2 separate regions of the Homo sapiens genome follow, and region 1 is linked to region 2. Evidence: fine-mapped expression QTL. A gene starts in region 2. The other region holds a variant in brackets. All regions are shown on one strand. Distances are from middle to middle. Region 1 overlaps TRPC3 (transient receptor potential cation channel subfamily C member 3). Region 2 holds the start of SMIM43 (small integral membrane protein 43).

What was found. PIP is the estimated chance that this variant, and not a neighbour inherited with it, causes the effect.
Region 1: its variant is the best candidate, but not a certain one, in a credible set for the expression of SMIM43 in blood mononuclear cells (TOPMed, PIP 0.81).

Annotation. Positions count from the first base shown.
Region 1 is chr4:121,892,598-121,897,834 of GRCh38, reverse strand. The region is part of intron 10 of TRPC3 (transient receptor potential cation channel subfamily C member 3); the gene reads left to right. Among named protein-coding and RNA genes, the nearest start is that of BBS7-DT, 25 kb to the right of the region's middle. The variant G/A (reference allele first, on the strand shown) is at 2,202.
Region 2 is chr4:121,762,120-121,767,356 of GRCh38, reverse strand. SMIM43 (small integral membrane protein 43) reads left to right here and starts at 2,193. Exons shown (of 6, transcript NM_001384332.1): 1 at 2,193-2,540; 2 at 3,485-3,593; 3 at 4,559-4,630. The coding sequence starts at 2,252. The coding sequence ends at 2,443. PP12613 (a long non-coding RNA gene) reads right to left here and starts at 2,772. Exons shown (of 1, transcript NR_024365.1): 1 at 549-2,772.

The DNA.
Region 1 (5,237 bases), 130 kb before region 2:
TGATATAATGATTTCTTTTCCTTTAGATAAATTCCCGTAGTGGGGTTGCTGGATCATATGGTAGCTCTATTTGTAGTTCTTGGAAAATCCTCCATACTGTTCTACATAATGGTTGTACTAGTTTACATTCCCATCAACAACATATTAGAGTTCCCTTTCTCTGCATTCTTACCAGCATTTTTTTTTTGTCTTTTTGATAGTAGACATTCTAACTGGAGTGAGATGATAACCTCATTGTGGTTTGGTTAGTGATGTCGAGCATTTTTTCATATATCATTGACCATTTGTATGTATTCTTTTGAGAAATGTCTGTTCAGATTATTTGCCCATTTTTAATTGGAATTTTTTTTTTTTTTTTTTTTTTTTTTTTTTTTTTTTTTTGCTGTTGAGATGATTGAGTTCCCTGTATATTCTGGATATTAATCCCCTATTGGATGAGCAATTTGCAAATATTTTCTCCAATTTTGTAGGCTGTCTTTTCACTGTTGTTTTTTCCTTTGTTGGTATGAACCAAACCAAGAAGCCTTTGGTTTGGTATGATCCCATATGTTTATTTTTGCTTTTGTTACTTCTGCTTTTGAGGTCTTGTTCATAAAATATTTTCCCAGACCAGTGTCCTGAAGCATTTCTCCTATGTTTTTTTCTACTAGTTTTATCATTTCAGGTCTTACATTTAGGTCTTTGGTCCATTTTGCCCTGATTTTTATACAAGGTGAGAAGTGGGAGTCTAGTCTTATTCTTCTGCATATGGATATCCAGTTTTCCCAGCACCAGTTATTGAAGAGACTGTCCTTTTCCCAATGAGTGTTTTTGGCATCTTTGTAAAAACTCAGTTGGTTATAGACACATGGATTAATTTCTGAGTTCTTAATTCTGTTCCATAGGTTTATGTGTCTTTTTATGCCAGTACCGTGTAGTTTTGGTTTCTACAGCCTGGTAATATATTTTAAGGTCCGATTGTGTGATACTTCCAGATTTGTTCTTTTTGCTCAGGATTGCTTTGGCTATTTGGGGTCTTTTATGATTCCCTACAAATTTTAGGATATTATTTCTATTTCTGTGAATAATGTCATTGGTATTTTGATAGGAGTTGCATTGAATCTGTAGATTGCTTTGAGTACCGTTGTCATTTTAACAGTAGTAATTCTTCTGATCCATGAGCATGTGGTACATTTCCCTTTGTTTGTATCCTCTTCAGTTTCTTTCATCAGTGTTTTGTAGTTTTCCTTGAAGAGGTCTTTCATCTCCTTGGTTAATTTATACCTGAGTATTGTAAATGGCATTGCCTTTTTTATTTTCTTTTTCAAGTAGTTTGTTGTTCGTGTATAGAAATGCAACTGATTTTTGTATGTTAATTTTGTATTCTGCTACTTTACTGAATTTGTTTATCAGTTCTAAAAGTTTTTTGGTAGAGTCTGTAGGTTTTTCAATGTATACGATCATGTTGTCTGCAAACAGGGACAATTTGACTTCCTCCTTTCCAATTTGGATACCCTTCTTTCTTTCTCTTGCCTAATTGTTCTGGCCAGAGCATCCAATACTATGTTGAATAAGAGTGGTGATAGTGAGCATCCTTGTCTTGTTACACTTCTAAAAAACCTTTCAGCTTTTCCCAGTTCAGTAAGATGTTAGCTGTGGGTTTGTTGTATGCCTTTATTACATTGAGATTCTTTCTTTCTATACCTAATTTATTAAGATTTTTTATCATAAAGGAATATTGAATTTTATGAAAAGCTTTTATCATCTGTTGAGATAATCATACAGTTTTTATCCTTCATTCTGTTGATGTGATGTATGATGTTTATTGATTTTTGTATGTTGAAACATCCTTGCATTCCTGGGATAAGTCCCACTATCAAGTGGGATTTTGATGTGATTTTGGATTTGGTTTATTAATATTTTATTGAGGATTTTTACATCTATGTTCATCAGGGATATTGGCCTGTAGTTTTATTGTGTCCTTATTTTGGTATTGGGGTTATACTGGTCTCATAAAGTGAGTTAAGAAGAATTCCTTCTGCTTTAATTTTTTCGATTAGTTTGAGAATAATTAGTATTAATTCTTCTTTAAAGGTTCAGTAGAATTCAGCAGTGAAACCATTTGGTCCTGGACTTTATTTTATTTTTTTGGGAGATGTTTTATGCACTCATTTAATCTTGTTACCTGTTTTTGGTCTGTTTAGATTTTCTATTTCTTCTTG[G/A]TTCAATCTTGGTAGATTGAATGTGTCTGTGATTTTATCTATTTTCCCAGGTTTTCTAATTTATTGGCATATGGTTATTCATAGTAGTCTCTAGTGATCTTTCATATTTCTCTATTATCCATTGTGATGTCTCCTTTTTCATTTTCTGATTTTATTTATTTGAGTCATATCTCTCTGTTTTTAAGTTACTCTAGCTAATGATTTGTCAATTTTGTTTATCTTTTTAAAAAAAACTTTGTTTTGTTGATTTTTTGTATTTATTTTAGTCTCAATTTTGTTTATTTCTGCTCTAATCTTTATTATTTCTTCTACCAATTTGGGGTTTGATTTGTTCATGCTTTTCTTGCATGCTTTTTTCAAGCATTTTTTATGCTTTTTTCCCTTTATGTGCATCATTAGATTGTTTGAAATCTTTCTAGTTTTTTGATGGATGTAGGCATTTATTGCTATAAACTTGCCCCTTAATCCTGCTTTTGCTGTGTTGCATGGGTGTTGGTATGTTGTATTTCTATTTTCACTCATTTCAAGGAATATTAAAATTTCATTCTTAATTTTTTCCTTGACTCATTGGTCATTCAGGAATATGTTGTTTAATTTTCATGTATTTGCATAGTTTCAAATGTGCCTTTTGTTATGATGTCTAATTTTATTCCATTGTGGTCAGATAAAATACTTGATATAATTTTGATTTTATTAAGTTCCTGAGACTTGTTTTATGTCCTAACATATGGTCAATCATAGAGAATGTACCACGTGCTGATTAAAAGAATATATGTTTTGGGGTTGGGTCTGGTAGCTCACACCTGCCTTGGAAGGCCAAGGCAGAAGGATTGCTTAAGCTCAGGAGTTTGAGACCAGCCTGGGCAACATGGTGAGACCTTGTCTCTGCAAAAGTGAAAAAAATTAGCCAGGCATAGTGGCACATGCCTGTAATCCTACATACTTGGGAAGATGGGGTAGGAGGATCACCTGAGCCCAAGAAGTTGAGACTGCAGTGAGCCATGATTGTACAACTGCACTCCAGCCTAGGGTACAGAGTGAGACACTGTCTCAAAAAAAAAAAAAAAAAAAAAAAAAACAGAATGTGTACTTTCCAGCTGTTGGGTAAAATGTTCTGTAAATATATTTTTGGTCCATTGGTCTTGGTGTAGTTTAAATCTGATGGTTTTTTGTTGATTTTCTGTCTGAATGATCTGTCTAATGCTGAGAGTGAGGTTGAAGTTCCCAACTATTATTATATTAGGATATATTTCTCCCTTTAGACTTAATAATATTTGCTTTATATATCTGAGTGCTCTAGTATTGGGTGCATGTATATTTATAACTGGTATATTCTCTTGCTGAGCTGATCCCCTTATTATTATATAATGCCTTTCTTTGTCTCTTTTTAAAGTTAAAGTTTTACTTTTGGTAGTTACATTGTATTCCATCATATGGTTATACTTATTTAATCATTCTTTTATTGATGAAAATAGAGGATATTGCTAATATTTAGCTATTATAAGCAACACTGTAGTAAGTCATTTTGTATATATAACATCTCAATCATGAACAAATACATGGAATTGTCTGGTTAAAGTATATTTGAATTTTAATTTTTTAGCTATTATCAAACTGATGGAGCTTGTACTAACTTACATTCTTACAATAAATATATGAGAGCACCTATTTCCTCCCTAATTTACAAACAGTGTGTTACCAAAGGTTTTTATCTTCACCAGATAGGTTAAAATGTGCTGCTTTGCATTTCTTTATCATGAATGAGTTTTACCTTCCTTTTTATGTTTAATGTTATATATCCTTATGTCTCCATATATATTTGCTTTACTTGAAGGGCTTTTTGTTATCAATGAAGAGGAATTCTTCATATTTTAACAATATTAGCCTTTGTGTTATGACTTAAGAATGTTTTTTACCAGGTTATTGTGTGTCTTTTTAATATTTAAAGTATTTTTTCCCATTCACAACTTTTTTTATTTTTGTATAGTCAACGTTACAAATTGTTTATGGCGTCAGGTTTTGTGTCCTACTTGGAAAGATTTTTCCCCCATAGGAGATTATTTAATATTTTTAACTCATATTTCTTTAGTTCTTTCACTTCTTTGGACTCTGAAAATATTTGATTCATATAGAATATATTTTCATTTAACCTGTAGGATGGGAATCCAAATATGTTGTCTTTCCAGATTATTATACAGTTGGGTGTGTTGAATAATCTATCTTTTCTATTGATTTGAAATACCACTTTAATAATTTACTAAATTCCTGTATAAATTTATTTCTAGGCTTTTCATTCTGTTCCACTGATCTATTCATGCTGTAGAACCACATTATCATAATTATTATAGTTTAAGACAAAAATCAAACAAACAAAACACACATACATGTGCATTCTTGCACGTGTGTACATACACACGCACACACGCACACACACATACACATCCTTACTTCAGGGTTTTTATTTTACAGAATTTCCTATTATTTTTCCTTTCATTCTTTTTTTTTTTTTTTTTGTGACAGAGTCTGCCTCTCTTGCCCAGGCTGGAGTGCAGTGGTGCAATCTCGGCTCACTGCAACCTCCACCTCCTGGATTCAAGCAATTCTCCTGCCTCAGCCTCCCGAGTAGCTGGGACTACTGGTGCCTGCCACCACACCCAGCTAACTTTTGTATTTTTAGTAGAGATTGGGTTTTACCATGTTGACCAGGCTGGTCTTGAACTCCTGACCTCAAGTGATCCACTTGCCTCAGCCTCCCAAAATGCTGGGATTAAAGGTATGAGCCACCAGCACCCAACCTCTTCCTTATTTCTCTATTTGAATTTTAAGGTGGGCTTGTCTGCTGGTATCTTTATTTTGATCACGTTAAGGCAAATTGATGCTTTATAATGTTGTGTTTTCTTTTCTAAGGATATACTTTTCGATTTATTAGGTCTTTTGTGTATTCAGTGACATTTTAAAGTAGTCCCCTTATTATTTATATTAATTATGATTAATTTGGTGCAGTTCTCACAAAACCACCACATACAAACCTTTAAA
Region 2 (5,237 bases):
GACAGCACTGAACACAGCTGGGAAGAGATGCGCAGTAACATACCACTATGCAGCATCTTCACCACACAGCTACAACAGATGTAAATAACCTCAAGTGCATAGACAGCAGTGAAATGTAGTACTGAGGTTGGTGCAAAAGCAATCACGGTTTTTGCTTTTAATGACAAAAACCGTGATTGCCTTTTTACCAACCTAATAAAATAATTAGAAAGTGATGAGTTTGGAGTATTAATTACCTTTGTTGTTAACATAATTGTAGGTTTATATAATTTAACTTTTAATAATAGCTGGAATTTAAAAATTGGTTTACAAAATTTAACAATCAGCTCCTGTGAGTCATTACGAGCCAGCTCCAGCATACCACTGCCTATGAAGTGGATCAATATAATGTTATTGAGAGAGAGACAAAGAGAAAATGAAAGAAAGATTCTTCTCACTTATGCACTAAGATGCTTGATGGAGAGGCCTAGGGCCTGGAAATTTTGTACAATAGCTTGTAGCATTGGGGGCCCTTCGTAATAGAATAATAACAGTATCTGACATTTATATAGCAAAACACATTTTTATTTAACATTTTCTCATTTTTGAGCCTCACAACAAATCCAAGGGAAAGATAAGCAAGGCATGTTACAGATGAGGGGACTGAGAGTCACTGAGCAAAAGTGACCACTGACAGAGCTGACACTAGAATCGGGTCCATGAGACTTGCAGTTCACAGACTGTTTTCATACCACCCTGTCTCTTTGAACCCCTGTCATCCCTGGAGCAGCCACTTATTACAATCTGGGATGTTGTCAGCCCTCATCCCCAGAATTCAGTCCAGGAGGCAATTCTGCATCTTCACAAATAAAGAATAAAATAAAGTTAGGCCTACAAATGGGCAATGATAGCTGGCTGTATTAACAGCTGTCATAGCCGACTCTAAGATGAGCCCCAGTGATCCTTACTCCTTGGCGTTCGTGTCCTTGGACTCCTACCCTGAATAGGGCTGACCTGTGTGACCAGTAGGATATTACAGATCTGATGGCACGTGACTTCTGAAGCTGGCGGTAAAGAGCACTGCAGCCTCTGCTTTGTTTTCTTTCATCACTTGTTCTGGGGGAATCCCGCAGCTGTATTGGAAGCACCCATGGAAGGGAACTGAGGCCTCCCACCAACAACCAGCCCTACCTGGCAAGCAGTGAGTGAGCCACCCTGGAAGTGGATCCTCCACCTCTACACAAGCATTCAGCTGAAGGCAGACCTGGCTGACATCTGAACGGAGCCTCATGAGTAACCCGACACCAGAATCACCCAGCCAGTGCTCCCACATTTCGGACCCACAGAAACTGTGAGAGATGATCAATGTTTATGCTGTTTGAAGCCACTAAATTTGGGGGTAATTTGTTCTGCAGTAATAGATACACTGAACAGCTTTTAAAGCTGCGCGATATGGGCTTTGGGTCACGTCAACCAGATACAGAAAGGCTTTAGGGACTCAAGAAACACTTTGAGTAAACTTGTTTTCCTCTTTTCACCAAATAAACTGAATTTGAGGCCAATATTTGAAATCTTTGTGCTATATAACTTCTGAAATACATTGTATTCTTAATGCGTTTCCAAGTGACCTGTTGTCCATAGAAAAGTACACTCAACACTGAATGTATCTGCTACTCTGAAGAGCAAGACAGCTCGAACTGGAATTCACTCAGACACCTCATAGCACGAAATCATCTCATAGCCTTTCAGACCCCATCTTCACTGCCACCTTTCATTCTTTTGGGTCTCTGGGCCATGACATCCCCTGTCCTTTCGGAAAGCAGGAACGGAGGGATATAACGAAATAAATTAATTGGGAACGCAGCGGAGCTAGGGACCCTACTGGATGTTGGGGGTGGAACTTTTAAATCATTTACAAAACACCAGTCCCGACCTCCCCTGGAAGACTGAGCTGTTACCTCTTCTGGCGTCCGTGCCCGCGGAAGTTCGCTCCTAGGGAAGTCGCTCGCGTCCTCAAGAGCACCTGAGAGGATCTCGGCGAAGCGGAAGGCTTTGGTGCCAGCTGGGAGAGTCTGCGCCGGATTTCCTCAGCTCCTTGGCGCGTTTCCTCGGAGCCGGGGGAGGCAAAGCACGGACCCCGGAGTCGGCGCCCATAGCGGGACGCCCTCGCGAGGGGCGGGAGTGCGGGAGGTGGGTGTGCGGGCGGCGCGCTCGCCCTCCAGCTGCAGCCCGCGCCGAGCGCGCAGGGCCAGCGAGCGCCGGCGCCTCCAGCATGGAGTGGGAACTCAACTTGCTGCTCTACCTGGCGCTCTTCTTCTTCCTGCTCTTCTTACTTTTCCTCCTGCTCTTCGTGGTCATCAAGCAGCTGAAGAACTCCGTGGCCAACACGGCCGGGGCGCTCCAGCCCGGGCGCCTCTCGGTGCACCGCGAGCCTTGGGGCTTCTCCCGAGAGCAAGCGGTGTGACCCGAGTGCGGGCACTGGCGGGAGGGCACCGAGCTGCGCGGGCGCTGGGCTGGGTCTCCGCCTCGATTCTCCGTCCTCGCGGCCTCCCAGCTTCCAGGTGCGGGGCTCGGCGGCTCTGACGGGTCCGTTCCGGCGTGAGGCGCAGGGACCCGCGTCTCCGCTCCTGTGGGAGGCCCGGGGCTCGCAGCGCGTTCGGGTGCCAGGGACGGTGGGTGTATGGGGTCTGGGCTGGCGCTGTGCTCTTCGAGAGGGACCCTAAGCTGTTCCAGGGCTGGGAGAGATGGCGAAAAGAGAATTCGCCCTTTGGAGCCGGAATGACTTTGGACAACTGCAAGCTCTTTTCTGTCCAACTGCATTTTAGTTATACCCAAGGAGTGGAAAAGTAAATTATTCGGATAATGCAGTTTAGCCACTTTCGAACAAAATCGCAGGTTAACCTGAATATCCACATTTTTGAGAAAGACTGTGTGGGCTTTGGGACGGGTGGCAGGAGGAAACGGGGCGCACTTAAAGTATTTTAAATATTGCTTTAAATATTTTTGCGCTTTGAGAGATGGTAAATGGGGTTCGTCTGGTGGTGCTGGGGTGGGGCGTGGGGGAGAGAAGATTCAGTCGTCCATTTGGAGGGAGGAATCCCTTCCTCCCGGTGATCCTTACTCATATTCTAGCCACCAACCACGGTTAGTGCTTGCGGATTGCCGTGCAGGGTAGGTTTCGAATCTGGGACAGCGGATGGTGAACGTTACAGTGAGAGTCATTTGGAAGATGCCTTAGGGTTGGCCGGTACGTGACCTTTTGGGTGATGGCATGGAGGGCCAGCTAAAAGAGGTACTGTTTGCATAGTGTAGGGAAACAGGAAAAAGGACGGAGAGGCGGGTCTGTGGTTTCAGGTTAAATTACTAGAGCTTTTGCAGAAGATGGGCGGGCAGGAGCAAACTCGAGTACCAGTATGCCCTAAGTACCCTCTCGCTAATGTTAGTTTGGGAAATATCTTCATCCTTCAGTAGCTTTTCCCTAGATTTATGTCATCTCTCTTTCTAGAGCCGAGCTGCTGCCCTTGACTGGTGCTCAGGGGACCACAGCTGCAATGACAGTTTGGGCCTGCAAAAAGAAGGCTGGAACAACGGGAGATGGAAGCTTTCTGCAAATGGTAAGTTGGGATGACGCATGGTTTCACGTTGGCCTTAGTTATGACTAAACTTCTAAAGATCCAGGGCCTAAAAACATGTTGGTTCAGGATGGGGGAAATGGGTACAAGGAAGGAAAGGGCACTCTCCCACTCAAATCTGGTGAGCTTCTACCAGATCCACAAAGCCAAACTGACTCCTAACTCATTGCAAGAATCAGTGTCTTAGTAGAGGATTGTGGAAATTTGAATGAGATGTCAGGAGTGTTTGCACTTTTAATAATCATTCGGCCCTTTTGAAAAACAGTGCGGGGGTTCATGGGGTGAAATATGTGATGCAGATATACTCAATCTTCAGTAAGGGAAGATTTGGGTTTAGTCATGTCAGTGTGGGATAAGCTAAGTCATAACTATAGTATTGAAAATACTAATTTTAGACACAAAGACCATATAGAGAGGCTAAAAACAATGAAATACTAAAGTTTGCCTAAGTTGATAATATAAAAGTGAAGTGTAAGACAATTATTTTAATGCTTCAAAGGAAAAATAGTCTCAGGTGAATAATTTTGGCCCAAGACATTAGATAATTTCCCACTTTCTATTTCACTCTCCCCAAATAGGCCTGTTCTTAATGAAGTAAGAGGTTTACTTTAATTATTATGGTATGAGCAAATCCTCACCTCTTTATCAGAGTTATGGTAAGACTTGATTTGAATTCCCAGTTTGAACTCCCTGAATCAACTGCAGTGATTCTGTATTGTGCTTTGAACAATAGTTCTCTAATTGGTTGATATCTCTGCAGTGGCATTTAGTTAAAAGGTTGTATGGTTAATATGGACATTGAAGATGAGTGTGGGAGTAATTAATTAGCAATTATAGTTGTTTGTAAGGATTGAAAACAATCATTTCACACTTTAGAATAACCAGAATGGAAATTATTTTAACCACATGCTTGCCTTCTTGAGTTTACAATCCTTTAATCTTCCTAGCAGCACCACTGGTATCCATGAATTTAACCTGCCCATCATTCTTCCTAAACAAGAGACTATTGAAAAGTCAGGGTGAGTAGTTTATTACCATCTCAGTATTAATCCAATCTCTCAGCTGGTTCTACTGACTCAGGTTCCTAAGAAAGCAGGGGTGCCTTTCTATCTTGTATCCAGGGCCATTTTATTAACTCCTTGTAATCAAATTCATTAATGACCAAGTTCCCATTTATCCAGGCCACAATGAATATTTATTCCTATTACTCAACCTCTGCTTGGAACTTGACTCTAAGCTCTGGGAATTAAGGTAACTCACATTTGCTCTTAGATCTTGCTGCTGTTGATCTCCTGCCCTGCACTTGCTTTGTTAGAGACTCTGCTTTTGAAACTTTGACAGCTGTAGATGAGCTGTCTTTTGCTGTTTATTTATTTATTCAATCATCATTTTTCCAAGACCTGACATAGACTGATCTCTCAAATTAGAACTACTTTCAAACTCACAATTTTGGCCACCTTTATGCATTTTTGGCTTAGATCAAATACTCTGACACCCACAATGGTCTAGGTTGCAGGCTTCTACATGTTGGCTACTCCATCCCCTGACGATCCCCTGTTCTGACAATCACTATGTGCCAAATCTATTTTTAAAGACTGTATATATATGAGCTAGACATTAAAGCAC